4 separate regions of the Homo sapiens genome follow, and all the other regions are linked to region 2. Evidence: fine-mapped expression QTL. A gene starts in region 2. Each other region holds a variant in brackets. All regions are shown on one strand. Distances are between the middles of the regions. Region 1 overlaps CACNA1I (calcium voltage-gated channel subunit alpha1 I). Region 2 holds the start of CACNA1I (calcium voltage-gated channel subunit alpha1 I). Region 3 overlaps CACNA1I (calcium voltage-gated channel subunit alpha1 I). Region 4 overlaps CACNA1I (calcium voltage-gated channel subunit alpha1 I).

What was found.
Region 1: its variant is fine-mapped to the expression of CACNA1I in whole blood (INTERVAL, PIP above 0.99).
Region 3: its variant is fine-mapped to the expression of CACNA1I in whole blood (TOPMed, PIP above 0.99). The same link has a PIP of 0.9 or more in blood mononuclear cells.
Region 4: its variant is fine-mapped to the expression of CACNA1I in whole blood (TOPMed, PIP above 0.99).

What each region holds. Positions count from the first base shown.
Region 1 is chr22:39,685,348-39,693,003 of GRCh38, forward strand. CACNA1I (calcium voltage-gated channel subunit alpha1 I) reads left to right here. Exons shown (of 37, transcript NM_021096.4): 37 at 414-4,388. The coding sequence ends at 1,058. Among named protein-coding and RNA genes, the nearest start is that of CACNA1I, 120 kb to the left of the region's middle. The variant C/T (reference allele first, on the strand shown) is at 3,820.
Region 2 is chr22:39,567,413-39,575,068 of GRCh38, forward strand. It overlaps CACNA1I (calcium voltage-gated channel subunit alpha1 I), which reads left to right and starts at 3,341. Exons shown (of 37, transcript NM_021096.4): 1 at 3,341-3,576. The coding sequence starts at 3,341. RefSeq lists an enhancer at 7,360-7,656.
Region 3 is chr22:39,655,269-39,662,924 of GRCh38, forward strand. CACNA1I (calcium voltage-gated channel subunit alpha1 I) reads left to right here. Exons shown (of 37, transcript NM_021096.4): 11 at 2,884-3,035; 12 at 3,663-3,848; 13 at 4,165-4,282; 14 at 4,429-4,584; 15 at 5,076-5,169; 16 at 5,840-6,042; 17 at 6,697-7,167; 18 at 7,508-7,608. Among named protein-coding and RNA genes, the nearest start is that of CACNA1I, 88 kb to the left of the region's middle. RefSeq lists an enhancer at 622-1,123 and a silencer at 7,190-7,309. The variant T/C (reference allele first, on the strand shown) is at 3,583.
Region 4 is chr22:39,675,693-39,683,348 of GRCh38, forward strand. It overlaps CACNA1I (calcium voltage-gated channel subunit alpha1 I), which reads left to right. Exons shown (of 37, transcript NM_021096.4): 30 at 1,649-1,727; 31 at 2,295-2,416; 32 at 3,415-3,753; 33 at 4,030-4,176; 34 at 5,238-5,360; 35 at 6,804-6,969. Among named protein-coding and RNA genes, the nearest start is that of CACNA1I, 110 kb to the left of the region's middle. The variant T/C (reference allele first, on the strand shown) is at 3,776.

The DNA of each region.
Region 1 (7,656 bases), 120 kb after region 2:
AGGTGGGGGCCAGGGGCCGGAGCAAGTGGGAGGGACCGGAACCAGTGGGAGCAGCCAAGGCTGGGGCCGCGTCAGACCATGGGGGGTGCGGTGGGGGTGCCACGTGCCCTGGGGGAGGGCGGTGGGCCCAGGGCTTCCCCTTGGAGTGAGCCTGGAGCCTTCTGTGACGGGCAGGGCCGGGTCTGACCTGGGTTTGAGGCGGATGCTAGCTCCTCTCGGGGGACCTCTCGGGGCAGGTGAAGGCCCTGCGGTGACGCCGCCTAAGCTGGACGTGCGGAGGGGAGAAGCCCTGCTCCGAAGGGAGCTCCTTGGATGGGGTCTGCCTGCTGCCTGCTGTGCGGGGGAGGGCGGCGTCCAGGTTGCTGGGGTGGGGGCCGACACAGGCGGCCTCCACGGCTCCCACCTCCCCCCAGGCCACCGGGAGCGACACGTCGCTGGACGCCAGCCCCAGCAGCTCCGCGGGCAGCCTGCAGACCACGCTCGAGGACAGCCTGACCCTGAGCGACAGCCCCCGGCGTGCCCTGGGGCCGCCCGCGCCTGCTCCAGGACCCCGGGCCGGCCTGTCCCCCGCCGCTCGCCGCCGCCTGAGCCTGCGCGGCCGGGGCCTCTTCAGCCTGCGGGGGCTGCGGGCGCATCAGCGCAGCCACAGCAGCGGGGGCTCCACCAGCCCGGGCTGCACCCACCACGACTCCATGGACCCCTCGGACGAGGAGGGCCGCGGTGGCGCGGGCGGCGGGGGCGCGGGCAGCGAGCACTCGGAGACCCTCAGCAGCCTCTCGCTCACCTCCCTCTTCTGCCCGCCGCCCCCGCCGCCAGCCCCCGGCCTCACGCCCGCCAGGAAGTTCAGCAGCACCAGCAGCCTGGCCGCCCCCGGCCGCCCCCACGCCGCCGCCCTGGCCCACGGCCTGGCCCGGAGCCCCTCGTGGGCCGCGGACCGCAGCAAGGACCCCCCCGGCCGGGCACCGCTGCCCATGGGCCTGGGCCCCTTGGCGCCCCCGCCGCAACCGCTCCCCGGAGAGCTGGAGCCGGGAGACGCCGCCAGCAAGAGGAAGAGATGAGGGTCGCAGGGGCCCCCGGCCGCCCACCGCCCGCCCCGTCTCACCTTCTTTACCTCAGGAGCCAGGAGCAGACAGCAATACTTCGTCCACACCTGGGATCGCGCAGGGCCCGCAGGGCACAGGCGCCCGACAGCCGGGCTGAGCGGAGTCTGGGTTAGCCAGGCCTGCGTGGCCCATGGTGGCCCTTCCAGTGCATATACATACATATATATATATATATGCATATATATATATATATATATATATATGTGTATACACACACACATAGACAGACATATATATATATATTTATTTTTTTTACTGAGAGCTTATGACTTCCAGAAAGTGCTAAAGGTGGGAGGTGGGCCAGGGCCTGGACGGGGCTTTTGTCTGATGCTCTGGGATTCTGGCCAGACCCACCCCAGGGCACATGTCCTGCGGGGGCGTCCCAGCTGTGTTTTTTGATGTCTCCTCCCTGGTTAAGAGTAGCTTGGAGAGGACCCTCAGGCCTCTGAGGGCACCAGGCCCTGGAGAAGAGGTGCAATTCAGGGTGTGTGTGTGTTTTTTTTCCTTTAAAGAAGAAACGCTGCTAAGATCCCACGTGGCTCCCACGTGTCGGGGTGTCTGTCCTGTCATCCTGACTGTCTCGTTATTGTGAAGTCTTTCGTAGACACCCCAGAGCACACACATCCCCTTAGTCCACCGGTTAGATGTCTCTCTTTAGAAAAATCAGGGGTGAGTAGCTGTGTTTCCTTAGGCCTGGGGTAGGGGATGGAGAGCAGCTCCAAGGCTGAGCTGGGGCTCTGGCCCCAGGTGAGGTCCCCAGCTCCTGAGCACTTCTGAGGGGGTGGGTTCCACCCCCAGGAGGGCGGGGGTGGGTGGAGCAGGAGTGGAGGCAGCCTGCAGAGGAAGGGTGCGGGAGACTGAGCCGGCAGTGGCTTGCTTGGAGGGGCTAGGGTACCCGCCTGGTCTCGGCTGGCTCCAGCTGCCCTGCAGGTGCCCCTGGGCTCAGGTAGTTAGTTGTTCAGCCACTAATGCCTTTTATCCCCCATATGGGCGCTGAGCTGTGGCTGTTCCTGGACACTGTGCTGTCCCCGTCCTGAGCAACTATGCCCCCGCCCCAGTAGGTTCAAGGCAAAGCAGCTCTGACCGAATTCTAGGCAGGGGTGGGGGCACCTGCCTGGGCCCTGGGTCCAGCCGCATCCCCATGCCCAGCCTTTCGCGTCACCTGGAGGCCACATCTTCCCACCCCACCTGCCAGCCCCTGTCTCTCCTCCCCGCTGCCCCTAACTGCAGCTCAGCTTTCACTATAGCAGTGCTTCCCAAACGGGTTCTAGACTTGGGTGTTTGATTTGAAGAGTTACGCATTTATTTCACTATTTATTGGGAAAAAAATGCATTGAACCCGTGATTTCACAGACATTTTGCTTAGGTCAAGGCTACTTTTTAAAAAGGGAGTGACTTTCATGAAGTCAGTTTGAAGAAGGAGGTTGGGAGCATGTTGGTGGCAGTGATCTGGAGAGGCTGCAGGGGCCACGAGTTTGCAGATGCTGTACTTCAGCAATAACCTTGCCTTTGCTAAGACCCCCTCCGAGGGCTTCAGGGGGGCCTGCCAAGGGGGGGCCTTGTTCTTGTTCCCAAACTCTGACTTGGAAGAACTCAGCTTGTGGCCGGGCTGGTGAGGGTGTGGGGTGCGCCCTTCCCTTTTGGGCTGAGGGAGAGGGGGCCGGGAGGGGTTGTCAAGCCCACCCGGGAAACTGAGCCCTGGAGAGGGGAAGCAGCCAGCCCAGGATGCTTCAGGGCCCTGGCAGCAAAGAAGCTGGGGTGGTGTGGAGGGCCCTACTCCACACCCTAGAGCTGTGATGCTGAGCAAGGTGCCTGTGGCGGAAGGAACTGCCCAGTCCTCCCTGGGGGCAGGTAGACCTGTGGGGATGGCTCGGTCCAAGCCCAACACTGCCCGCTCCAGAGAGCCTCAGCCCTGCCTCCCTTTCCACAGAGGTGGTTTTATGTGGAACGAGGTACCTTGTCTGGGGAAGAAGTGGAGCTGGGCAGGCTTGACTGCTCCTGGCTGACCCTGAGCTCTCGCAGTTGGAGGGAAGCAGACAGACTTGACTTTTTGCAAGTCCGCGTGTTGCTGGAGGGACACGTGTATTGGAGCCCAGAAGAGGGGCTGTGTGGCCTGGGAATACCATGTGGAAGGTTGGGCTTCAAGTTAACAGGATCAGACACCAGTCAAGCAGCCTCAGGTCATCTTGCGACTCCACTGAGCAGCCTTTCCTGTTGTCACATGGGTTCAGAGCAGCTGAGCAGGGAACACGTCCTAGGCAGGTCTGACGTGAAACCTCCCCTTACCCTGAACCGTGTGACTCTGCAAGCAGACACCTCGAGGCAGGTGTTCTAGGCAAAGGGATGGGCATGAGCGAAGGCTCCAGGGTCCACAGAGCAGGGAGTGTGGAGAAGGTGGAAGAGCTGAGCTCAGAGGCAGAGAAGCTCCTTGCAGGGAGCACTGGGAGATGGCCTGGCCCGTCCCAGGCTCCTGGAGGCCCCACCTGCCGATCCCAGGCACTTGACCTTGTTCCTGTGGGTGACAGAGATGAGAACCAGGGAAGCTGTGATCCACTGGCCAGGACAAGTCAACATGGGTGAGGGTTGGGCAAAGGGCCCTTCCTTCCTCCCCAACCCTGTGGTCTGGGGCCATGGCCTCAGGCTTGTGTCTATCACAAAAGCACAAACTTGCCCTAACCCACATGGGCCTGGCTGTGGGGAAAGTGGGGACCCAGGT[C/T]CCTGAGCTGTCTGCTGGGCTCCGTAGAGCGGTGGTGGGCAGGCACCTTGGCATCTGTGCAGAGACGGCCCAGTCTGGCCAAATCCTCTTCCTCTCCCCTGCTCTACCTTCTCCGGCACCAGGCAGCCCCTTAAAGGAGGACAAAGTGTGTAAAGCCCGTCTGCTGTCTTCCCCCAAATCCTCAGCTCAGAGCCTTCCGCTTCCAGGGCCAACCCCAGCCCCGTTTGCTGCGTTGTGTAAGGGCTTGGGGTCTTAGAAGCTGCTCTTTAGCCCAGATACACATACTCTTTTTTGTCTTTGTGCAATAATCAGTGTTCCTGGCAGAGCCTGGGCCAAGCTGCAGCCTACTGAGGAGGCAGAGGCCACCTCCTCCAGAAAGCCCTCGGCCTGGGCCGCCGCCGTGACTCTAGCACTCTCAGTCGCTGTACAGTTTCTATGGTGTGAATGAACTTCCCTCCTAGTTGCTGATGGCGCTGGTACCTGCTGGCCCATGGCCCGGGTGTAGAGAAACCAAGCGGCAGCCACCACCAGTGTTGTTTTGAATAAAAGCCCAGAAGCCTATTTAAGAATTTCTCCGTGTGTCTCTGCTGTTCTTTCCCCAGCGGGGTGGGTGTCAAGCTGAGGCTTCTCTCAAGGGAGGGGTGGCAGTGTCTCCTCCCCCATTTTCAGGCATGGGGCCTGGGGCGTCGGGGACCTAGAACAATGCTCATGGCAGGGTGCTCTCATGGCCGCTGGGTGGCTGGGGGCCTGTGGAGCTGGGGAGGAGGCAGGCCTGGTTCCCATACTCTGCTGCTGTGGCTGAGTTGCTGGACCCGGGCGAGAGGGTCACGTGGGAAGAATAATCTGTTCACCGTTTGGCACTGTCTATTTCTTTTTCTTTCTTTTTTTTTTTTTTGAGACGGAGTCTCGCTCTGTTGCCCAGGCTCGAGTGCAGTGGCAAGATCTCAGCTCACTGCAAGGATCAAGCGATTCTCCCGCTTCAGCCTCCTGAGTAGCTGGGATTACAGGCGCCTGCTATCATGCCTGGCTAAGTTTTGTATTTTTAGTAGAGACAGGGTTTTGCCACATTGGCCAGCTGGTCTCGAACTCTTGACCTCAGGTGATCCACCCGCCTCGGGTGCTGGGATTACAGGCATGAACCACCATGCCCAGCCTGCACTGTTTCTTGAGTAAGTCCCCATCAGATTGCGCTGACCCAAGGACAGGGACTGTGTTTACTCCTCCCACCCGGAGCCTGGTGCAGGTTGAGATTCAGCAAATGTCAGCTCCGTGGCTGTGTTTTGGAAGCAGAAGGGATTTCAAAGACCAACTAACACCTTATCTTATTTTTCCACTTGAGGAAACAGGCCTGGAATGGCAGCAGGGTGTGGTCTGGGCCACACAGCGAGGCAGAGGCTAGGGGTGACGGGCACCTGCATGCCACCTCCACAGCCAGAGGCTCGGCCCCTGGGGAGGAGAACCCTGATTTGTCATCCTCTCTCTTCCCCGTTAATAATGGGATTAAAAGCAAGTTGCTGCCAAGGAGAGAGACTGGCTTTAAAAAAAAAAAATAACACAAGAACATTTTAAGAGAATGAAAAACTTCAGCCATCAGCACTTTTTATTTAGACCCGAATTCATGAATTTTAACCAAATAAACACAGGCATGTTAGGTATTAATATATGTAAGATTATGCAAAACCACTATTATGGCTATAATGAAAATTAGATTCTGACTCTTGTTGTGCTCCAGGAGGGAGGCATCCTCCGGTTTCTAGCGCAGTGACCTCCGATTGCTGTCACCATGGTAACAGGCTGCCGTGGGAATCTGTGGAGGAGGAGGCTGGTCCTGTCGGGAGGGGTGGGGGTAGGGCCAGGCCGGGCTGGTGCGGATCTGCCGGCCCACATCTGCACAGAGCTAGGGGCGTTTCGTCCCCTGGGCAGAGGCCAGCCTGAGCCTCAGAGGAGAGGGGGCCGGTCATCAGCAGGAGGGGAATGGTGGGGCAGAAACAGCAGTTGCACGGGGCCCCGCCCCACTCACCCTCATCTTCCTGTTCCCCTCAGGCTGCCCCTCCAGGGAGGCATCTGTGTCATCTTCAGTAAATCATGGCTGCACACCCACGCGCGCCCAGCCTCTGCTAGGTGCTGGGGACACAGTGGTGATGGGTCCCTGTGCTCACGGAGCCCGCACCTCAGAGTGGGAGAAAGATTCCAGACAGACAGGCACACAGCTGGGCCGTTTCAGAGCCTGCAAGTGCCAAGAAGGCAGCAGAGCCGGTGGAGTGACCGTGACCGGGGCTGGGGGTGGGGGTCTTCCTGGCTGGGTGGTCCGGGAGGACTGGCTGGGGATTCCTGAAGAACCAGAGGGGAGAGCCTTGCTGAGGCAGTGACCACCGGCTTTCCAGATGAGAGGCAGGAGTCTCAGAGGGCAGCGTCCAGATGAGACCCAGGGCACCTGGCTACATGAGAACATTGAACACGCCAGGAACACGTTTACAGTGTGAACAGGTCCCATGCGGTATTTGGGACATAGTCACACTAAAAAGTTATTTGTTGCTTATCTGAAATTCAGATTTAACTGACTGTCCTTATTCTTCTTTGTGAAGTTGGCAAGCCTGTCAGAGAGTGGGGGGTGACTTCCCTGGGCCATGAGGGGCCGTGCCCTGCCTGATCGCCTGCCCGGCACCCCTGCCCGATGGCCTGCCTGGCACCCCTGCCCTGTCCTCCTGGGATGCTGCTTTTGGGTTGCCCGCCCACTTTGCCCCTTCAATCCCTTCTCACTGGGAGCCTGGTGAAGGAGAAACACCAGCTGACCCCACCTCTGCAGCTCAGTTCAGTGGTTCCATGGCTCCCGGGACCTGCCCGATGCCTGCAGGGCTCTGGGCGTTCCAGTCCTCACCCACTGCCCAGCGTGGCTTCATGGACCAGCCATGCTGACCTGCCCTGCTCTGCCCTTCTCCCACCTCTGCTGGGCTCTTCACCCTTCAAGCCCCCACTTAGGCGTCACTGTCTCGAGAAACTTCCCTGTCACTCCAGGCTGTTCCCACCCTCTGACTCTCAGCTCCTCCCTGAAAAAAATTAGCCTTTTAAGAAACTGTGGTGAAGTATACACAAATGACGTAAAATTTACCATTTTAATTCTTATTAAGTGTAGAGTTCAGTGGCATTAGGAATGTTCCTAGACACTTCTCAAAAGAAAACTTATGAAAAAAACCTCATCATCAGTGGTCATTAAAGAAATGCAAATCAAAACCACAATGAGATACCATCTCATGCCAGTCAGAATGGCGATCATTAAAAAGTCAGGAAACAACAGATGCTGGTGAGGCTGTGGAGAAATAGGAACACTTTTACACTGATGGTGGGAGTACAAATTAGTTCAACCATTGTGGAATCCAGTGTGGCGATGCCTCAAGGATCTAGAACCAGAAATACCATTTGACCCAGCAATCCCATTACTGGGTATATACCCAGAGGATTATAAATCATTCTACTGTAAAGACACGTGCACTTATATGTTTACTGCAGCACTATTTACAATAGCAAAGACTTGGAACCAACCCAAATGCCCATCAGTGATAGACTGGATAAAGAAAATGTGGCACATATACACCATGGAATACTATGAAGCCATATAAAAGAATAAGTTCATGTCCTTTGCAGGGACGTGGATGAAGCCATAAAAAAGAATAAGTTCATGTCCTTTGCAGGGACATGGATGAAGCTGGAAACCATCATTCTCAGCAAACAAACACAGGAACAGAAAACCAAACACTGCATGTTCTCACTCATAAGTGGGAGTTGAGCAGTGAGAACACATGGACACAGGGAGTGGGACATCACATACTGGGGCCTGTC
Region 2 (7,656 bases):
CTGGGAGCACCACAGTGAGGGGAGAGGTGTGAGCACAGAGGGCAGCACAGTGTGGCGGCATTAAACAAGCCAAGAGAGGCAACAAGCAAGTCAGTGCAAGCGACGTAGCCCAGAGGCAGGAAGTGGGTAGTTTTGTGCAGTCCCGGAGGCCGGGGGAGCTCTTTCCACCTGTGTGGTTTCAGGAAGGACTTCGGTAATGCTGGGGCGAGGGTTGCAGGTGGGCCACTGCAGTTGCTGCGAGACCAGGTGCTTTACCTCGAGAATAAATCTCAATCCACCGCCTTCTCCCTGTCTTCACCAGCAGCCAAGGGCAGGCCAGCCCAGCTCCTCCCAGCCCTTCCTGCTCCACCCCTTCCCCTTCATCCACTCTCCCTTCAGCCCCTGGAGAGATGGCTTAGAAACAGACCAGAGCACACCACTCCCCTGCCTAAAACCCACCTGTGGCTTCTACTGAACTTGGGATAAAACCCACGCTCCTCTGTGTTCTCCCCCAGGGCCCTGCTGAACTCTTTGGTTTCATCCGCCTCCCTGCCCGAGGCTCGGCCTCGCTTGTGTTCCTTAAATGCACCGAGCGGGCCCCATTCTCCTGGCCTTCGCACGTGCTCTTCCTCCTGTGCTCTTCCAGCAGATCAGTCAGGGCTGCGGCCTCCCGCGTCTTGGTTTTCACTTAAACATCTCTTCCTTTAGAGAGGGCAAGATGATTGTCTCCACTCCCACCTTTCCCCTTGTTTATTTACTTCCCAGCACTTTTTATTCACTGAGTCAACAAATATCGATTGAGCACCTAGTATGCTCCAGGCACCATTCCAGGTGCTGGGGATACAGCAGTGAGGGGATACACCTCCCTTACAGGCTTCTCTTAGGCTGGGGAGACAGACACCAAATCATGGAGATATAAAGACATAAATTATGCACCGTGTTTGATGGTGATAAGAGTTGTGGAAAAGCAGAAAGAGAGAAATTAATTGATCGGTGTGTCTCTCTCCTCTGCGGAAGTGTGGGCTGAATGGGGGCTGGTGCTGAGTCTGGCTCGTGCCCCAGCATAGCCCGAAGCCCACACAGTGCCCACACATAGTAGGTGCTCATTGGGCAAATGAATGAATCAGTAGGGCCTGGGAGAACAGGGCCTGGGCGGAAGGAGAAGGTGCCCCAGTGAGAGGGAAGAGCGGGAGCAGGGCCTAGGACCTGAGGAGGTCCAATCTGGCCAGAGCAAATGGCCAGGGGAGGGAGTGGTGGGCTCCGAGGCTGGCACGGTGGTGGGCAGAGCTGGAACCACCCTAGGGAGGGTGCGTTTCAGCCCAGGAGGTTGACACGTGGCAGGCCAAGGTGCCTGGGAGCTTATGTAAGGCCCGTGGCTGTTTTTCTGGAATCAAGAGCAAAGCCCTGAGCTCAGGAGAAAACTCCGCCTCCCTGACCAGCCAGGGGAAGTGGCAGGAGGTGCCAACCCCTGCCCGTTGCCCCCGGGAGCCAGAGAAATGTCCAAATGCATCAGCTCCGGGTGGCTTGGTCGACAGCCCAGCAGCAGCTGGGTGGGCACCAGGGACGTGGACCCCATCTCTCAATCCCACGGCTCAGACTGGCCCTGTAGGGGTTCTAGGATCCCAGGGACCCCAGTGGACAAAGTTTTAGGGACTAGTACCCTTTGGGGTGAGGTGGTGAGGGGCAGGCCCTGGGAGTGGCTGTCCGTCCCATCTTGCCATTGACTGGTTGCGGAGGCTCTCGGCCAGCGAGGGCACCATCAGTTGTCATGAAGCCCGCCTGGGGGTCTGGTGCTGGGATTCTGGCCTCTCAACACCACCTAGTGCTTCACTTGGCTGGGTGCATAGCCTTGACAACCCGCTTTGTTCTCTTGGCCTCAGTTTCTTCACCTGCCAAATGGGCATAATAGTCCTCCTGAGGTTGTTGTGAGCATCAGACAAGGCCAGGGAGTAGAAGTGCTTTGAGTTGGAGTCGGAGCCAGCAAGATGATTTGCATCACCTAGAACAAAATGAAAATGTGGGACCTCTTGATAAGCAATTAAGAATTTCATGTTGGTGACAGAAGAATTCTAAAGCAAGTTCAGGGCCCTTCTGAGCACGGGGCCCTGTGCAGCTGCCTGAGCCACAGACCCAGGAAGCGGGCTCTGACCGGAATTCTTTTTTTTTTTTTTTTTTGGTGACAGAGTCTTGCTCTGTTGCCCAGGCTGGAATGCAGTGGTGTGATCTTGGCTCACTGCAACCTCCACCTCCCGGGTTCAAGTGATTCTCATGCCTCAGCTTCCCGAGTAGCTGAGATTACAGCGTGTGCCACCACACCCAGCTAATTTTTGTATTTTTAGTACAGATGAGGTCTCACTATGTTGGCCAGGTTGGCCTCAAACTCCTGACCTCAGGTGATCCACCCACCTTGGCCTCCCAAAGTGCTGGGATTACAGGTGTGAGTCACGTGCCTGGCCTTTGACTGGAATTCTATTTCTGCTGTTACTCTGCTACATGTCTGTCCTGTCCCTTCTCTGGGCCTCGGTTTCTTCATCTGTAAGGCAAGGAGGTTAGACTCTAAGATTCCTGGGTTCTCAGCCTTGTAAGGCAGTGGCTGGGAGGTCCCTGGGTCAAGGGCTCAGCTGTAGGTCTCAGCTCAGGGGTTACTTCCTCAGGGAAGCCAACTGTGATTCCCTCCTGGCTTGCCAGCGTTCCCCCAGTCTCTGATTCTGCAGCACCCCAACATTGCCTTTGTAACCTGCATTGTCCTGGCAATAATGTCTGTCTTTACAATCACCTCTTTTTTCTTGCAAGTTTTCTTTACCTTTGATGGTGCAATAAATACATAGCTCTAGTCTTGTAAAAAAGTTAAGATCCCTTCCTTCCTTCCTTCCTTCCTTCCTTCCTTCCTTCCTTTCTTCCCTCCCTCCCTCCCTCTCTCCCTCTCTCCCTCCCTTCCGTCTTTCTTTTCTGTCTATAATTACTTAAACATTTTTTCTCTTAAATAATGAAAGATTTCAAATACAGAAAATTGCCAATAGACAAAAAAAAAAGAGTTAATATCACAATTATATTCTAAGAAGGCTTTATTCTCCCCACTATCTTCGTTTGCCAAAACTGAGGCTCAGCCAGGGTGAGCAGACTTGCCCCATGATCACCCAGCTTGGAAGCAGATTCCAAGTTGGGTGCAGCTGGGCCCTCAGCTGTTTCGTAATCCTCATGCAAGAGTGAGGGTGAGGGGCCTGTGGGGCTCAGGTGGGGCTGTCAGAGCTGCATCCGTCCACTTATTGGTGGAGAGGCAGGTTGGGGAGCATGTACCAGGCCTGTCCCCACCACGTGCCACCCTCTCTGTCTTCCCCAGGGCTCCCAGCTCAGTGTGGACATGGCTGAGAGCGCCTCCCCGCCCTCCTCATCTGCAGCAGCCCCAGCCGCTGAGCCAGGAGTCACCACGGAGCAGCCCGGACCCCGGAGCCCCCCATCCTCCCCGCCAGGCCTGGAGGAGCCTCTGGATGGAGCTGATCCTCATGTCCCACACCCAGACCTGGCGCCTATTGCCTTCTTCTGCCTGCGACAGACCACCAGCCCCCGGAACTGGTGCATCAAGATGGTGTGCAACCCATATCCTCCGCAGCCTCGGCTGATCGGGGCCCTGCAGGGGCTGAAGGGTGGGGGGCTGGATTGAGTCCTGCTGCTCACACCTTGCTCCGGCTGGGAGACCTGAGGTCTGCGGTGAGGCCACTGGGCCTTGGTGGTGGTGAGCGAGCTCAGAGGGTGGGTCTGGGGAGACCTCAAATGGATGAGGACCTGGTGTTCTGCTGATGTGAAGGTTCTGGAAGTTGCTGGTGGCTGTGGGGTCAGTCCAGTGGCTGGCTGGCTCAGAAAGTCCTTGAGTGTGGGCCCCAGACCTGTGCTGGGCTGGGAATGCAGATCAGTCAGACTCTGGAGCCACCTGATGGGCCGTGACCATACAGAGGATGGGAGCCGTGATCAGGAACTGTGGGCGTGGGCAGCGGGGCAGCCGATCCCAACACACAGGGCAGGACTCATTCTCCTTACTGTGCCTCCGAGCAGCCTCTTCCCAGGCCTCCTGCCTCCACTTGCTGCCTCCAGTGGGCTCATGTTCCCCCTGCTTAAGACTGTCATGATTTGCTATGGTCCTGGAGGTGCAGAGCAAAGTCCTAATCCAACCCATCAGGGCCTGTGTGTTCCACCCAGCCTCACTTCCCACCACTTGGCTTCCCCCCTGTGCTCTTCTGAGCCTCAGGGTCCTCTCACTGGCTCTTCCCCCTGTCTGAAAAGCTTTTCCCTTCCCCCTGGACCTGGCCAAATCCTTTGCTACATCCTTAAAATCCCAGCTTAAGCATCACCTCCTCAGGGAAGCCCTCTGGGATTCCTCCTCTGCTTCATATCTAACTGTCACATCTAACTGTGGAATTCTGAATCTAACATTTGCCTCCCCTGGGGTACTGTCAGATGACTGGGATGGGGACCCTAGCACCTGGCACAGTGCTTGGCACATCGTGGGTGCTCTGGCAGTGTTTGCTGGGTGTACATGGGCAATGCCAGAGCTGACTCCTCAATAAGGAAGAGCGTTGGTTGGGTAGAGAGGGTAGTGGGAGGCAGGAGGAGGGCATGGCAGGAGCGAAGCCTGGAGAAGGGAGGAGTTGCAGGCAGTGTTGGAGCCCTGAGGGGCAGAGAGGAGTGAGGTGAGGCTGCAGGTGTGGCGGGAGCCCTGCAGGGCCTTGGAGGCTGCATGAGGGATGGGACTGTGCTCCAAGGGCAGGATTTGAAGCAGGGTCTGGAGAGATCTGTGCTCTGGAAGGACTGTGTGGCACTGGCTTGCAGGGTGAAGTGGGGGCTGGGGACCACTGAGGAGGAGGCTTGGGGACCCAAGCCATGGTGGCCTTGTGGTTTGAGGGTCCCACCAAAAAATGCCCATATGTGGCTCGAGGTTCTGGTGCTTGTGGCCACACAGGGCAGGGTGCGGGGAGCTGGTGGGTCAGGTGCAGGCCTGAGTCCTGCCCTGGAATCCAGGGATGCCAGATGCAGGCTGGGATGTTGAGACTGGCTGCAGGACTGCCAGGCTTCCCTTCTGTAGGGGGCTGAGGTGATCGTGGGCCCTGGATCCCCCTAACTTTTGGAAACCAGCGGGTCTCTGCTGGAGTGGGATGCAGAACTGGGTGTTCCTTGCTGGGTGGGGGCTAAGAGCCTCCCTGCTCCTTCTGGGGGACGGCTCACAGCGTCTCAGGCTTGGTGAGAGGGTCTGCTCGGTAATTAGTTCACCCAGCACTCACTGACATCTGCCCTGGGACACTGAGGACAAAGAGGCAGAGCTGGTGTCTGTCCCAGGGAGTGCCCGGGGAAGAGGGAAGCAGGGACCACCCATTTGGCTAGTTTTTTTTTTTAGATGGAGTCTCGCTCTGTCACCCAGGCTGGAGTGCAGTGGCGCGATCTCGGCTCACTGCAACCTCCGCCTCCCAGGTTCAAGCAATTCTCCTGCCTCAGCCTCCCGAGTAGCTGGGACTACAGGCACCCACCGCCATGCCCTACTAATTTTTGTATTTTTAGTAGAGATGGGGTTTCACCATGTTGGTCAGGCTGGTCTCGAACTCCTGACTCGTGAACCGCCTGCCTCGGCCTCCCAAAGTGCTGGGATTACAGGTGTGAGCCACTGTGCCCAGCCTACGTGGCTAGTTTTAATACAAAGCACTGGGGAAACCTCAGGGGCTTGTGGCATGTGAACAGAGGAGTGCCAGGCCTGAGAAGGGGGCGGCCGCAGGAATTTTGGGCCTTTAGGAAGAGAAAGGCTGGTAGGAGGACCAGGGGGACAATTTCACAATGTCTCAGGGGCCTTTCCTGGGTGAGATGACAAGAGTTGATTCTGGCTCTGTCACTTGGGTGCTGTGTGACCATGAGTAAGTCACTTTGCTTCTTTGAACCTTAGGGGGTCTGGATGGGCAATACTGCTCTGGGCTGGAGGCAGGGGCATGGCTCAGAGGACTTGGCCTGGGAGTCTGACCCAGCTGCGTCTCTGATGGGCTCTGGCTGGGCTGGCTGGGGTGCTGCCCACGTGTCACGGAGAGGCCCCTAGATGGGGGTGGTCAAGTCCTGTCTGCCATGTGTGTGACCCTGGGCAGTCTCCTCTCTCTGAGCCTCAGCACCTCCACCTAAAAAGGAGACGGCAGACGAATCACCCCTTCCAGCCCTGGGAGCCCAGGGTGTTAGCCACACACGCCATGGGGGCTGCCTTGATCTCAGGCACCCTGACGCCTGACCACTGAGTGAGCCAGCCCCTGGGAACCCACCCAGTTTTCCATATTTCTGGCCTGTTGGGCAAACAGAGTCCTTGGGGCCACTGTCTCCTTGGTTTTCACCACCCCTCTCACCTCCATCCTCAGGTCATGTGGGTTGTGGCCTGGGGTTGGAGACAACAGTGGGGCTGGCCCAGGAGGGAGAGGAGTACTGGTTTCGGGAGGAGCTGGGCCTGCCTCTTGTCTGTCTTGGAGAGAGCCCTGGGTCCAAGGGGTGGGGCAGAAAGCAGCCCCCCTCCATCAGGAGGGACTTTTCAGTCCCGGGAGCTGCGCAGAGCGAGGGTTCCCCCGGCATCCCCATGGCCAGGGCTGCTGAGGCTGGACTGGGATAGAGGTGGTTCAGGTCTCGGCCTTAACTGGTGGGATACGGACTCTCTTCAGGCCAGAGATGTGGCGACTCAAAAGCACAGCAACTTTAAAGGTGTCAGCTCTGGGACACTCAGACTGAAAACTTCTGCGACAGTCTAAGGGTTCAAAGTTAAGATTTAAGGCTCAGCGACACTGAAATTCTAAGCTTCTGTCATTCAAAGGCTGCAAAATTCTGTGTTTCAAAGAGTGTGTGAGCCTAAGACTTGGTGGCTGTGATGCTGTGTGCCTACGAGTTGGAGGATTCTGGACCCGGTGGCTGCAGCCGCTGCTGGCCTGAGAGTTCATAGCTGAATTGGGTCAGGTGGGAGAGGGGCCAAGGAGGGTTCCACAAACAGAGACCCAGGAGACGTGGCTGTCCATAGGGCTGTCCCCTGGAGCAGAGACTCAGTCGTGGGGAGCTCAGGGTGGGCTTTAGGGGCTTGGGATGGGGTGCGTGTGTGGGTGGGGCAGGGGCTGAAGCCTCTAGGATTCTTTCCTGGCTGGAAACTTCACTCCCTCTTGTGCTCTGTGGGAGGGGGCCTGGGGCAGTGCTTAAGCTTGTACTCCTCAATGGGACACCATTGGCATTTGGGGGTTGACGGTGCTTTGTAGTCTTGTCTGTCTTGCATATTCAATAGTAGTAGTGTCCTTCAATCATTGTGACTACCATAAATGACCTTTCACATGTCTAGACCCTGCAAAGGGCGACTCTTTCCCCCACTGAGAACCCAAAGGGGTGGTGGGTGCGTAGCATCAGAGTCAGGCTGGTGGGAGCTGCTGTCATGATGGCCAGGCCCGGGAAGGGGAGGGCAGCATGGGAGGGTCCCCCAGACAGCCTGTCCTGAGCTCATGTCCTGGTGCTGAGGGGCCCTGGCCCAGAGCCAGCTGCTCTTTGAAGCCTGGTGCTCCCTGACTCAGCTCCTCTTCCAGCCCGGAGCTAGGCCCTGAGTCACCGCCTGACTCACTGGAGAGCCAGCAGGCTGCTGGGACCCTTGTGGAGCCTGCAAGGTGGGGTGGGAAAGGGCCACTCGCCCATATG
Region 3 (7,656 bases), 88 kb after region 2:
GGCAGCTGACCTCTGCACACCCTTATCTACCCCTACAGAAATGGCAGAGGCTGGGCAGCCTGGTGTCACCCAAACCCGCATCAGGCAGGGACTTGCAGGCTCCCACTGCTGCCCCCTACCTCCTGCCTCTGGCTGAACTTGGTGTTTTCAGCCCTTCAGCATGTCTGCCTTCACTGGGTGGTCTTTGCCACCTCCAGCGAGCTTTCTGCCATCTGTCTGTCTGTCCTGCTGTCTGTCTGCCTGCTCTTTTTGTGTCTCTTTCTGGCCGTACCTATGGTTCCCATGGTGTCACTGCTTCGTTGTCCTGGTCCTTCTTCACATCCGTGTCCCTGCTTTCCTGTCTCCATGTCTCCATCTCTCCATGCCCCACCTTTGCCCCTCACTCCCTTGTCTCTATCTGTCTGTCTGTCTGTCTCTGCCCATCTCCGCCCCTCCCTCTCCATGTCCCCTCCTCCTTGGGCTCCCACTTGCTGTGTCTATATTCGTCTGTGTGTCTCTGTCCCGGAGAAATGCTTTCATGAGTGATGGATGGTCCATTAGAAAAAGATTAACAGGTGTGCTGAATGGAGGAACATCTGTTGTGAGGGAGGAGGAGGCGCGGGGTGACCTTTTGGATGGCAGTGGCTCCCTGCATCCCTGGTAGGAGTGTGTGCGTGGCGCGCGCGGCTGGAGCCAGCTGATCATCATCACGGAGTGTCAGCGCCTACAGCTTTCATCTCCGCGGACATCGCTTACTGGGCTGGCAAATTGCTGGCTCTGAGCAGCATCTGGACCCTGGCTCAGTCCTCCCCACCGAGGGTCCCTCTCAGGGTCCTACTCCTCTTTTGGGACGACTTCTTGAGTCAGATGTAATTACAGATGGAAATGGGCCTTCTCCTTTCATCTGGGCTTGAGAGGAGCTGGCAGTTTTATTAGCTTTCCCAGGCATCAGGCTGGAAGCTGGCGCTTGGGTTGTTATTTTTTTTTTCCATCCTCCTTTTAACCCACATGGAGTCGGAGTCAGGTCCTTGCGGCTCCCCGTTGCTGATGGAGGGGCTCCTGCTCTCGGTCCTCTGCTCTCCCACCTCCCAGCCAGCTGGGTCCTCCACCTGCACACCCTTCTCTGCTCCCTGGCGCCAGCTCTCTCTTAGCTTTTAGGTCTCTGCTGAGATGTCGCTGCCTCCTGACCCCACTAGCACCGCTCCCCTAGCCACCCCCCACTTTCCTGGCGTCAGCACACACTGGCTTGGTTTGTTAACTTGGTTTACTGGGCTTTGGCCCCAGAGCACGAGCTTCTCAAAGGCAGGGACGGTGCCCTGACTCCCTCACCACTGCCCACCCTGGTAGCTCGAGCCCAGCACATCATGTCATTCAAATTTGTGGTAGCCATGCAGGAATGAATGAATGAATGAATGAATGAATGAATTTGGCTGCAGTCCCCATGTGGTGTAACGGGAGAGCAGTTTGGAGTCCAGCTTGGTTCAGTGCCCTGCCTTTGCCCTGCCACATCCTTGCTAGGTGGCTCTGAACAAGTCATTCCCCCTCCCAGTTTCCCTAGCCTCAGTCTCCTCATCTGTAAAACGGAGAGGCTAACTTGTGTTGGGCGTCAAATCAGGTCTCAACGACAGTGCTTCCTTTCTCTGTGATTCAGGCAGGGATGACCTGGCACCACAGTGAGCACACACCAGACACTTCATCAGTCCCAGGGGAGCCGTGGCAGGGAGAGAAGGGGCTGGGCCTCGTAGGAGCCTTAGAGGAGAGGCTTGGATGAATTGGTTCCTCACTCGACCCCGTGGTTTTATGGATAAGGAAACTAAACTCCAGAGGAGGGGGGAAGCAACTTTCCCAGGACCACACAGCCACTTAATGTCCAAACCAAACCCGGACCCCTCCAACTTCCCCCACTGCCCCCAGTCGTGGCCTCTAGTGTGGCCTGCTTTGAACACTGGGGTTCTTTGAACAATGCCATTTGCAGGATATCAGTTAAAAACCAGGGGTAAACAGCTCTGGGAGCAGAGGGAGGCTCCACAGCTGTTGGGGGAGGGAGCTAGTCTCCCTCTGACCAACTAGTGGCTTTGGGCAGGTCCTCTAACCTCCCTGGGTCTGAATGTCCTCCTCCGAGAGCTGCTGGGAGTGCTAAGAGCCACCACGGGTGCTCTGTGTGCAGGACTGTGCCTGGCATGCAGCAGGTACATTGTGTCCACCGTCCTTTCATGGGGCACGATGTCCCCAGCCACCCTTGGTCCTGAGACGGCCATTGCTGGGAAGGGGAGAGAAAAGTTCTGCATGGGCGGGGGTTAAGGGCAGGAGTCTTGGAGCCAGGCTGCCTGGGTTCAAATCCTGGCCACACCACTTGTTAGCTCTGTGGCCTCAGGCAAGGGACTGGCGTCCTGTGAACCCGTGTCCTTGCCTGTCTGCAGACGGGTTCTTGTGAGGGGCTAAGTGAAGTGATGGCTGTAAAATGCATAGAACGGTTCCCGGCACGTGGTAAGTGCTCACTAAATGGGTTAGTGACGTCTAGCGACGCCTGTCCTGCTTTCCTGTCTTGCTCTGCATCTTAGCCGTGTGACCTCAGGCTGGCCTCCAAGCCTCTTTTTCCTCATCCGTAAAATGCGTATCAGAACACTTCCCTGGTAGTGTGCTACAAGCCTCATTTCCAAATTTGTGGAAGGTCAGCGCTGTGGGGTCCCCCAACCCTCACCATCTCAGCAGACCTCTCACGACCCCAAGGTAGCAGAGTTGAGAGGGGCCCTCGGGGCCTTGTGCATGGGGCAGTGGGGAGACGGAGGTATGGTGAGGACACCGACCTGCCAGGGTCACACAGCCAGGGTGGGTGTCCAGAGGGGATCCACAGCTGCCCTCTGGCCTGACCGGGTCTCCATTCCCCACCCCAATGCCCCACAGCCGGAGGAGCTGACCAACATCCTGGAGATCTGCAATGTGGTCTTCACCAGCATGTTTGCCCTGGAGATGATCCTGAAGCTGGCTGCATTTGGGCTCTTCGACTACCTGCGTAACCCCTACAACATCTTCGACAGCATCATTGTCATCATCAGGTACCCCTCCCCCAACCCACCCGGCAGCAGAGTGCCTCGGGGGGACATTTACTGCAAAGACCCCAGCCAGCATATAAAGGACATAAGATGGCTGTGGAAACCCGTTGCACTGAAACAATTATCGAAATAGTCAAACATTTGTGATTTAGCAACATATTTCTGTCAAGTTAAACAGCATGATCTAGCAGCGCGTCTGTGACTGCTATCATTCCGAGGAAGGGATGGGCATAAATCATATTGGGAAACAACTGCATCGGCTGTCACGTGACGTGAAGACACCAGTTACTTTGATTGCCACAAAGCCATAGGTACTGCTAATTCTCTGTGGCTTCCTGTTTACATTCATAACCAAAAGACACGTTAAATCTCAAAAAGAGGACAGTGATATCCATGGACCTCCGGATTCTAGCCAGAGACTTCTTGTGGGGGTGGTGGTGGTCCATGGACTCCAAGTGAAGAGCCCCTGATTAGCTTGTGGCGTGGAGCAGCATCCAACATATTTGTCAGATGGATGGATGAATGGAAGCTCTGTCTCTCTGTTTTCCCT[T/C]CTCCCTCTGTCTTCCTCTCCCCCTGGCCTCCTACTGCTGCCTCCTACCTGTACCCTGGGCCTGCCCTGCGGGACCGCAGCATCTGGGAGATTGTGGGGCAGGCGGACGGTGGGCTGTCGGTGCTGCGGACCTTCCGGCTGCTGCGCGTGCTGAAACTGGTGCGCTTCATGCCTGCCCTGCGGCGCCAGCTCGTGGTGCTCATGAAGACCATGGACAACGTGGCCACCTTCTGCATGCTGCTCATGCTCTTCATCTTCATCTTCAGGTGAGCCTGCCCTGCTGGGGGCCATACCTCAGCACCTGCTGGGGCTGTGGGCGGGAGCCTGGGGGATGTGGTCCACTGTGCTTCTCTGGACAAAGCCACCTGGACCTGGGTGTGAAGCCTGACACTGTTCCTCAGTCCCCTGTGGCTTTCAGCAAGCATGAACCCCTAAGCCTCAGTGTTCATCTCTGTAAAATGGGACCAACGCTGCCCCGCCTCCCCCTGCCCTGCATTTTACTGAGTTGACTGAGAATGAAACAAGGTGAGTAGGCAGTTTGGTGCATGTGAGTCCGATGAGCCTCTTCCATCCTTTCCCCAGCATCCTTGGGATGCATATTTTTGGCTGCAAGTTCAGCCTCCGCACGGACACTGGAGACACGGTGCCCGACAGGAAGAACTTCGACTCCCTGCTGTGGGCCATCGTCACTGTGTTCCAGGTGAGTGGCCGCTGCGTGTTCATGTTTGCTGGGGAAGCGATGGGACAGTAGGCCTGGGAGGGGCGGGGCTGACAACTCCCATGCCTCCTTGTAGAGCCTAGCCCTGGACTAGGGGTACCCCAGGGCTAACTGTGTCTCCCCAACAGATCCTCACCCAGGAGGACTGGAACGTCGTTCTCTACAATGGCATGGCCTCCACTTCTCCCTGGGCCTCCCTCTACTTTGTCGCCCTCATGACCTTCGGCAACTATGTGCTCTTCAACCTGCTGGTGGCCATCCTGGTGGAGGGCTTCCAGGCGGAGGTGACTGTGGTCTTGGCAGAGGAAGCACCCCCACAGGGTCTGCGAAAGACTGGGCGAGGGAGAGGTGGCCTGGATGGGGGAGGGCTGCAATTCAAACTTCTAGCAGGCAACCTATCCCTAAAGGAGGGGGTTGCTGATGAGGTGGTGAGCTCTTCATCATAGGAAGCATGCAAATGGAGACTGCGTCTGCCATCCCTGCTCCCCCCCAGGGATGTAGGACTAGGCTTCTCCATCTCTGAGATTCGAAATCCCCCAAGATTAGGGACTCTGGGCCCTGCTCCCTCCGTTCTCTGAGGCTCTGGGGATACTTGCAGTCAGGCAGATGTAGGGTTGTGACCTAGGTTCTTGTTAGCATCTCATTTCCCTTTTCCAAACCTCAGTTTTCCCATTTGCAAAATGGCGGTGGAAACACCCATAGAAAAATTCTAGAGGGAGCTGGGAAGGGAGGAGCTGGACTGACCTGCATTCTAACGTGACGGATGCTCTCCCAGGGTGACGCCAATCGCTCCTACTCGGACGAGGACCAGAGCTCATCCAACATAGAAGAGTTTGATAAGCTCCAGGAAGGCCTGGACAGCAGCGGAGGTAAACAGGCCCTCGCTTGTCACCTAGAGAGCCCAGAGCCTTCTCCACAGATCCAGGTGGGCAGAGGGTACAGCGTCTGACTCCACCTCAAGCCCAGGCTCAGGGACTGCTACTTATCTATGGTTTGTTGTTTACGTTCATAATTGGAAAAAATGTGAAATCTCAAAAAGAGGTCAGTGACATCCATGGACCCCTGGGATTCTAGGCACAGGGGTAGCCGCAGCCCACCACATCCCTCCACATACCAGGGCCCCTTGGTTAGAGCCTTGGGGCCTTAGGTCAAGGTGTAGGTTCTGGTCCTGCCTGGCACTACTGGGCATCTTGGAACAAGCATCCTCCAACCCTAGCCCAGTGTCTTTCTCGGTAACTGGGGCGGACAGTCCCTGCCTTGTTTCCCATAGTGGGCATGGGAGTGAGGTGTCAGGCTGGTTCTGAGCACAGAAGGCAAGGGGTCCACACATACCTAAATAAAGCTAAGAGCCCTGCAGGTGGGGCGAAGGGGAGGCACTGTGATGGGGTGCAACCAGGAAGACTTCCTGGTAGAGGAAGCCTCCTTAGAAAAGCTCTCCATTTCTGCTCCTTCCTTGTTTGTCTGTCTCGTGGCTCCCTTGCTGTTGTTCTGTCCTGTCTGCCATCTGTCCCTCCCTCTGTCTCCATCTCACTCCTCCAGATCCCAAGCTCTGCCCAATCCCCATGACCCCCAATGGGCACCTGGACCCCAGTCTCCCACTGGGTGGGCACCTAGGTCCTGCTGGGGCTGCGGGACCTGCCCCCCGACTCTCACTGCAGCCGGACCCCATGCTGGTGGCCCTGGGCTCCCGAAAGAGCAGTGTCATGTCTCTAGGGAGGATGAGCTATGACCAGCGCTCCCTGGTGAGTCCTTGTGGGGAGCTCTGGACGGGCGCTTCCTGCTGGGGTGTGTGTGGAGGGGCCCTGAAGAGAGGTACCTGCCAGTCTAGCCTCAGACTCTGGTGCCCAGCCAAAGTCAGGCAGGGGCCATGTCTGTTGCATTCCTGGGTGCCCAGTGCCAGAGTGGGACCTGGCAATAAGGAACGAATGAAGGCCTAGTGCCAGTGGGGTCTGGTGCAGAGAATTGGATTTTCATCTCAGCAACAATGTGTAGGGTAAAAAGAGCTGGGCTTTGGAGTCAGGCAGACTGCAGCTTGAATCCACCTTCTGCCACTTCCAAGCTGTGTGACCAGGAGCAAATTACTGCCCTTCTCTGAGCCTCAGTTTCCTTACCTGCAAAATGGGAAGATGGCCCTAACTTGCTGTACCTTCCTCAAGGGAAGTGAGGTGGCAGGAGGGGATGTAACCTCCGGGTGGATGTGCCCCCATGTCCCTGTGGATGTGGATGGAGTGAGGTGGGACAGGGAGAGGAGCTCTAGGGTCAAGCCCATTCCATCACCCGCTGGCCAGGTGGGTGGTCTTAGAGCCACAGCGGGGGTGCAGGCTGCCTTTGGGCACCTGGTGCCCCAGCCGTGGGTGTGCCTGTGGGGCGCTGACCCGAACGGGAACTCCTTCCAGTCCAGCTCCCGGAGCTCCTACTACGGGCCATGGGGCCGCAGCGCGGCCTGGGCCAGCCGTCGCTCCAGCTGGAACAGCCTCAAGCACAAGCCGCCGTCGGCGGAGCATGAGTCCCTGCTCTCTGCGGAGCGCGGCGGCGGCGCCCGGGTCTGCGAGGTTGCCGCGGACGAGGGGCCGCCGCGGGCCGCACCCCTGCACACCCCACACGCCCACCACATTCATCACGGGCCCCATCTGGCGCACCGCCACCGCCACCACCGCCGGACGCTGTCCCTCGACAACAGGGACTCGGTGGACCTGGCCGAGCTGGTGCCCGCGGTGGGCGCCCACCCCCGGGCCGCCTGGAGGGCGGCAGGCCCGGCCCCCGGGCATGAGGACTGCAATGGCAGGATGCCCAGCATCGCCAAAGACGTCTTCACCAAGATGGGCGACCGCGGGGATCGCGGGGAGGATGAGGAGGAAATCGACTACGTGAGTGGGGGCGGGGCCGAAGGGGACCTGGTGCGGTGGGATAGGACAGAAGTGGGTGCGGCCCCAGGAGGCGGGGCCCGAGCGGGCGGGCCCACGGGGGGCGTGGCCGGGGCGTGGCCGGAGCGGCTAGGGCTTCAGGTGTGAGGCAGGAGGGGTGGGGCCAGAACTGCCCACACCTGAGCTGGGCCGGCTCCTGGGAGAGAAGCCCTCCCTGGCTGCCCCCGGGGGGCAGAGAGTTCGGAGGTGACCCTGCGACCCCAGTTGGCGCGATGGCCGCATGGGCGGAGACCGGCAACCCTGCGCATCGCTGACCCCCGGCGCTCCGTCCTCCTCTTGCTAGACCCTGTGCTTCCGCGTCCGCAAGATGATCGACGTCTATAAGCCCGACTGGTGCGAGGTCCGCGAAGACTGGTCTGTCTACCTCTTCTCTCCCGAGAACAGGTGGGCAGGGCCAGGCCTGGGGTGAGGGTTAGAGTAGGGGTAACGTGG
Region 4 (7,656 bases), 110 kb after region 2:
AAGAAGAGGGAGGAGGCATCAGAGAAGGCTTCTCAGGGGAGGTGACCCATGGACTGGGCTTTGAGGGGTGGGGAGGAGGCATTTTACAGGCAAAGATAGAGGGTCCTCCCTGCAGAGGGAAAATAATATGCCAAGGCACTGTGGGGCTGTTTTCTGTGTGGCTGGAGTGTGTGGGATTGGAAGATCAGGCTGGGAGGGGGGTCCCTGGGGGCCAGGTCACAGCACACCTTCAGTGCTAGGGCAGCAGAATTGGGCTTTATCTTGCAGGCAGCAGGTGCCACAGGAGGGTTCTAGACAAGGAAGGCTGCAGCCGAGCTGCCTTTGAGAAGGTGGCTCTGCTGGCTGGGAGGAGAATGGATTGGAGGGAGAGGCTGGAGGCAGGGAAGCTGGTGAGGAGGCTGCTGCAACCCTGCCGGCTCTGAGATGCTGACAGCAGGGAGGGGACAGATAGAAAAGCTGACGGCAATCCTGGTTAAGAGATGCTGCCCCCGCCGGCCTGTGCAGGGCACAAAGCTGAATTCCTAGAGCCGCGACCACGCCAGATCCTTCTCAGCGGTCAGGGCCTTACAGTTGGCCTCACGGGTGCTCAGTAAGTGCTTGTTTTATTAATGAAGGGAACATCATTTAATTAGTCAGACACTAGCAGTGTAGAACGGCTGGCCAGGAAACCCTGCTCTGGAGTGGAGCGGAGAAACTCGAGGAGTGGTGATTAATGGGGTTTACTTTTCAGCAGTTAACGTGAACGTTTTCTGAGGGTTCTAAGGCCTTCTGAGGGTTCTAAGAGATATTTCATTTCTAGGGCAAGAATGTGTTTTAGCCTTATCTTATCCATAGCATGAGTTAAAGGTGGTCTCCAATGCATGGATAGATTTGAACTAGGTTTGGAATCTGGGACGCTTTCTCCCACAGGAGCTGTGGGATGGGGGTGGCTGGGTTTGCAGAGGCTTCTGGGGCCCACGGGCCTGCGTGATTCCTGCCTTCCCTCCTCTCTATGGCCAGGCCTCATGCTGGCCCAAGGAGGCAAATCTGACCTCATGCAGCTGTGTTCCTGCTCTTGAAGATTTCCCAGACCAGCAGATGACAGTGACAGGGATAAGTGCATTTCGGTGGTTTCGTAGAGGAGCTAGTGTTAGAGCTGAGACCTCCTGCCTTCTCCCTTCCCTTCGTTCATCCATCCATTCAACCTTGGTAGCCACTCAAGGCGTGTAGCATAGATTGTGTGCATGGACCCTGGGGCCAGCCTGCTGGGTTTGGACCCTTGTCCTACCAGTTACTAGCTGTGCGACTCTGGACAAGTGATGTCACCTCTCAGTCTGTCTCCTTCTTCTTCTGAAGAATGGGGATAAAAGATAGTTCGTGGATTATTGTGAGGAGGAAGTGAGCTCATGAACCTTAAGTGCTGGAAATGGGACAGCTTGTGGTAAAGGTGGCACAAGTGTTTTCTTGTTATTCTGAGCCCTGTGCTGGACCCAGCCTGCCCTCCAGGTCCTGTAGGGGTGGCAGACGTGGACACACAGCCTGGGGGAATGTTACAGCTGCTCTGACCCACAGGCTGCCCAACCCCACTGCCCCAGCCTCCACCCTTCCCAGGCCTGGTGCGCCCCCACCCGCTCCCCAGCCCCACCCGGCCTCACCTGTCCTCCCGCAGGTGGGCAACCTGGGCCTCCTCTTCATGCTGCTCTTCTTCATCTATGCTGCTCTCGGGGTGGAGCTCTTTGGGAAGCTGGGTGAGTGACTCCCAGAGCAGGCCCGTGGTGGGGGTGCAGCAGGGCTGCAGGAGGAACTGGGGGGGCGGGGGAGGCCTGAGACCCCTGAGCCCGTCACATCAGGGTCTTTGTATTGGGGAGATGCCTACAGCAGGGCCCTCAGCTGTCTGGTCTCCCAGGAAAACTGCCCTCCCTACCCCGGTGTTGGTGCCTGTCCTGAGCCAGCGCCACCCCAGCAAGTGGAGAGGCCAGGGCAGGGGAAAGAGCAACAGAGCGCTCGCTGAGCTCCGCCCTGCACCGGGATGGCTCCAGAAAGCAGGGTTCCCCGAGGGGCTGGCCCTCACCCCATTTCACCCTCTTTCTCAGAAACCCATTCTTCGGCGGGGAGCAGAGCCAGACTCACCCAAACCTGAGCCCCAGCTCATGTGCCATCTCCCCGAGCCTCAGTTTATCTGTGGGCTGGGCACAGTCTGCAGGCCCCTCCTAGGGTGTGATGAGGGTTCTGAGGCGAGGCGGGAGGCACCAGGTCAGGGTGAGCCCCGCAGGCACTCCGCCATCGGGCAGGGCTGACCTCCTCCCCGCTTCCAGTCTGCAACGACGAGAACCCGTGCGAGGGCATGAGCCGGCATGCCACCTTCGAGAACTTCGGCATGGCCTTCCTCACACTCTTCCAGGTCTCCACGGGTGACAACTGGAACGGGATCATGAAGGTACTCCTGGGCGGGCTGGGGTGGAGAAATCAGCCAGGTGCTGGGACAGTGAGGATGCTGGTCCTGCTGCTCAGGGCTCTGCCCACCCAGGGCCCCACCACACATGGGAGGGGCATGCAGGGCACGGAGGAGTGGAGGGGCCTGCCCAGGACCAGCACAGTGGGGAGAGCTGAGCCAGAACAGGCCCCCTGTCTACACTGCCTCATCCCCCAGTGTTGCCTGGGATCAGGGCTCAGATTCTAGGGTAGACAACTCCACCCAGTTCCGGAGGGGACCTGGGGCCCAGGCAGGCCTGAAGGCCAGGGCCAGGCCCCCTAGTGATTTCCACGCTGACCAGGTCACCCGGCAGAGGCTCCCTGGCCTGGGCTGCAACCCGGGCTGGGCTGGGAAGGGCAGGGAGGGGCTCCCAGAGGACAGGGGTAAGGCCTCGGTTCCGGGGCCCTAGGGTGGAGAGGGCAGAGGTAGGCCTGTTCTGCCTCCCACCCCCACCCTGCAGAGCCCCCAGTGCCCCCAGCAAGGGGGCAGGAAGCCAGGGTGCTGGGAGAGGCGGCCAATCTCCTCAGCCCAGGGCGGGAAGGTGATGGAGTCTTCTTGGGCTTTGTGGTTGGGGGTTGAGCTGAAAAACCAGAAAGGAAGGACAGGGAGGCCCTGGTCACGAATGCACCCTACTCCCCAGGGGCCCCTGAAGGAAGCCCCAGATGCCCCTTCTCAGGCCTGACTGTCCCGGGGAAGCAGGCCAGCTGTGGGGAGGGTGACATGGGCAGGAGCAAGAGAGGAGGAGAGGGCGCTGGGCCATCCGTCTGTCCATGCGGGGACTTAGCTGAAGCTGAGGCAGGCAGATGCCGCAACAAGGCAGAGTGGGGCAGGGCAGCCCGGGGCCATCTCGGGGGTTGAATCTCGGTCTTGCTGCCTCCGAGCGTGGCCCTGGGCTGGCCTCTGCCTCCAGCAGCCTCTGGGATGTCTCCGTCCTCATCCTCACCGCCCTCCCTGCCACGCAGGACACGCTGCGGGACTGCACCCACGACGAGCGCAGCTGCCTGAGCAGCCTGCAGTTTGTGTCGCCGCTGTACTTCGTGAGCTTCGTGCTCACCGCGCAGTTCGTGCTCATCAACGTGGTGGTGGCTGTGCTCATGAAGCACCTGGACGACAGCAACAAGGAGGCGCAGGAGGACGCCGAGATGGATGCCGAGCTCGAGCTGGAGATGGCCCATGGCCTGGGCCCTGGCCCGAGGCTGCCTACCGGCTCCCCGGGCGCCCCTGGCCGAGGGCCGGGAGGGGCGGGCGGCGGGGGCGACACCGAGGGCGGCTTGTGCCGGCGCTGCTACTCGCCTGCCCAGGTGGGCAGGGGCTGGAGAGGTG[T/C]GAGGGTCGCCAGAGGGGGGGCACCGCAGGGCCAGATGGGCAGCAGGGCCAGGGAGGCCTTGCACAGAGACCTCTGTCTTTCTGGGCCCCACCCTGCTCAGCTCCATAGAAGGGGTGACCCTGTGATGAGGGGGTCGGTCCCAGGCCATGGGCGCAGAGAACCAACCGGGAGGGCAGCTGTGTCCTGCCCACCCCACAGCCCCGGGACCCGGCTGATAATCCCGCCTGTCCCCACCCCGTCCCCGTCCGCCTAGGAGAACCTGTGGCTGGACAGCGTCTCTTTAATCATCAAGGACTCCTTGGAGGGGGAGCTGACCATCATCGACAACCTGTCGGGCTCCATCTTCCACCACTACTCCTCGCCTGCCGGCTGCAAGAAGTGTCACCACGACAAGCAAGAGGTAATGGCAGCCCGGGAGGCCTGGCCCCTTGTGGCAGGGGCAGCACGAAACCTGGTGGGGGGCCTGTCCGAGGGCAGAGCCTGGCTCTGGGCTGTAGAGACCAGGCTGGGTCAACGTGGGCACACGTAGCTTCCATGGCTGGGGCAGATTGGCTCCCTGAGTCAGGGCCAGGTGTGGGCCTGTGGTGTGGTGGCCACAGCTGCCGACCCCAGCACCATGCCGCACACAGTAGGTGCTTGGGTAGGGCAGCTGCCCCACCTTGTGTGCTGCAGGTGCCAGGCAGGGAGCCTGTGTGTCACTTGCAGGACAGCTTGCCCTTTCTGTGACATGAGGGGTCATCTGCCCGCTCTTCCCCCAAGGCATCATCCTGGCACTCAACCTCCTCCAGGTGCCCTGTCCTGGCCTCCACCTCAGGGCTTAGGCCCACCCAGCTCAGGGGTTCCCATGGGCCTGCCTCCAGAGCAGGCGCAGTTAGCCCCCTCCCCTCTCCCCAGCAGTGTGGGCCCCTGAGCTCTCCCTGGGGTGTTCCAGCCCCCAGAGTGGCCCCAGCCTCAGGTGGCTGCAGGGCAGGTCCCCAGGAACCATCAGCAGGAGCTGGAGGACTGGGCTGCCCCACATCCCTGCCCTGTGGTGGCTGCAGATTCTCCGGTGTCTCTGGGCCCCGCAGTGTCCCCTGCCTGTGACACGCTGTGCAGGTCATCCACATGGGGCCATAGATGAGTCAAGTCCAGCCCAGTCTTGACGGGCACTTGGTCTGGGGGCAAGCAGACAGCTGTGGAGTTCACAGCCCACGGCAACTCACCTGCCCTCAGGTCCAGGTAGCAAGATGGGCCACTCAGAGCTGGCTTCCACTGGAGGTGGCCACTGTGTCACCATCGCATGTCACCCAGGCTGGGCCCCTGCACAGGATGGACACATCATCCGTGTCCAGCAGGTGTCTGGACCTTTCTGACCACTGCTCGGCCTCTCTTCAGAGCCTCAGGCCTGTGGCTGCACGCCCCAGGACCCAGGTCTGCCCATCCCAAACCTGGGTGACCCGAGGCCACCCCCTCTTCCTGCAGGTGCAGCTGGCTGAGACGGAGGCCTTCTCCCTGAACTCAGACAGGTCCTCGTCCATCCTGCTGGGTGACGACCTGAGTCTCGAGGACCCCACAGCCTGCCCACCTGGCCGCAAAGACAGCAAGGTCAGCTCCCCTGGGGACTCCTGAGCAGGCGGGTCTGTCCTTGAAACCTGGCCCCTGCCCACCCAGGCAGGACCCCCCTGTCTTTCCAGTCTACCATGTAAACGGCACCCACTGTGCTAGGCCTTCATCTCCTGTTGGACAGATGAGGGCAGTAGGGCTCAGAGAGGTGGAGTGATTTGCCTGAGGTCACACAGCCACAAGCCCAGCCAGCACTCCAACCCGGCACCCAGCAGTACTGGCTGCTTCTTGTTGCTTTGAGTATTTTCTGGTCCATTCCACGGGGGGTCATCCCTGGCCGGCGGGGCTGTGAGGCTGAAGCGAACGGGGGAGTCATGTCAGGCACAAGCACCTGCTATGTGCGGGGGCGGTCGCGTCAGGCACAAGCACCTACTATGTGCAGGCGCTCTGCCCGTGCCACCTGTTTGTCTGCCGCACGGCTCTGTGCAGCAGGGATGATTTGTTCCCACTTCACATGTGAGGAAATGGTTCCAAGAAGTGGGGCGATGCTCACATCACACAGCCAGGAATGACAGAGCAGGAAGCCACCCCAGGGGGTCAGTCTGAGGAGGCCTGCAGGCCAGGAGGGGGCTCTTGCTGATCCTGCAGTCTTAGGGGGTGAGATCTCAAGACCTGGGCTCCTGATCTCAAGGTCAAGGTGGTCCTGCCCTGCTGGGGGTGGGGGGTGTAAGGGACAGCTGGGGGATACCCTGGGCTTGGTACCTCTGCCCCCTAGGCTGGCCCTCCATCAGCTCAGAGTAGGCTGTGGGGCCAGTTCCTCCTGTCCCTTCCATGTCATTTTGGTCCCCTCCCTGATTGGTAACAGTTGCTGCAGCTCCCCGCACCCCTACACTGCTCTCCTACAAAGGATATCAGGATGCACAGTTTCTGGGACTCAGCTGGACTTGGGCAGGGTGCAGTCTTTTGTGCCAGACTCAGCAAGTCATTGGAGGTCGGGGTGGCACGAGTTCATCTGCCTTGGAGGGGGCATTAAGGCGGCTCTTCTGGGAAGGGGTCACTCTGGGCTGCAGGGCTGAGGAATGTGGGGGCCAGGGAATGCCTAGGAAGGTAGGCGTTACTCTCCTTGGATGCAGAAACAGGCTCAGCAAAGGGAAGGGACCCACCCAAGGTCATGCTCATGGGACACTCGTGTGGCCACTCAGCCTGTCTTCTGATGCCTTCGCCAGCCTTGACCTGGCTTCTTCGCTGGGCCAGGGTCTGTACCAGGGGAAGTCACTAACTGCCTGGGGCATCCAGTGGGCATTCGGAGGTGGATTCCTTTCACGGGATTTTGGAAGATGGTCAGGTAGAGGAGGTGAGAGGAAGGTCAGACTAGACATGAGGGTAGCCTAGTTAAGCAAGGGGCCGTGGAGCAGGTCATGAGGTACCCTTCATGAGCTGTCCCCCTTCCCAGTCCTGCCCCATCCTACCTCCCTTTCCTTGCAGGGTGAGCTGGACCCACCTGAGCCCATGCGTGTGGGAGACCTGGGCGAATGCTTCTTCCCCTTGTCCTCTACGGCCGTCTCGCCGGATCCAGAGAACTTCCTGTGTGAGATGGAGGAGATCCCATTCAACCCTGTCCGGTCCTGGCTGAAACATGACAGCAGTCAAGGTGAGGGGTGGGAGCCCTGCCAGCTCCCCACAGCCCTCATCTTGGGCATCTGCTTCAGAGGGAGATGGCTGAGTTTTTTCCTTAGTATTTTTACCCAGATTATTATATTTAGTCCAGAAAGAACCAGATGGATATCTGACAATGAGAGATAGACTCTCAGGCCTGATATAACAATGATAAAAGATCAAGAGCCAAATAGTACAAAAAGATGAGGTAATTATAACAAAAACCTAAGCATCTAAAGGAAGCTTCATGCTGAGCTTCCTAGGAGCCATGGTGAAAAGGGAAAGAGGTGGGTACACACGGCTCTCATCAAGCAGAAGGAAAGCTGCCAGATTATTGTGGTGTTTTTCTAGAGCTGAATTTGAGAGGTGTGTAGCCCACAGATCTTCATATACACGGGGATGTTAAACATAGGAAAGCCTGGTGTCTTCAATAGCCGTTTTGTGAATTCCTGATACTTATCCTTCAGCCCTACCTGCAGTGTTCTGTTTATGCTTTGGGCCTGTGGCTGGGCTCTGGGCACAGGGCCAGGGGACTAAGCTGGCCTGCCATCATGGGCTCATCTTTGTTGTGGTCCTCATGGAGGGTGGCAGGAACCTGGTTTCGCATCACTGGCTGTGGAGGGAGGCAGAGAGATGAGGAGCCCAGCAGAAGAGGGATGCCCAAGACTCTGAGCCCACCCCA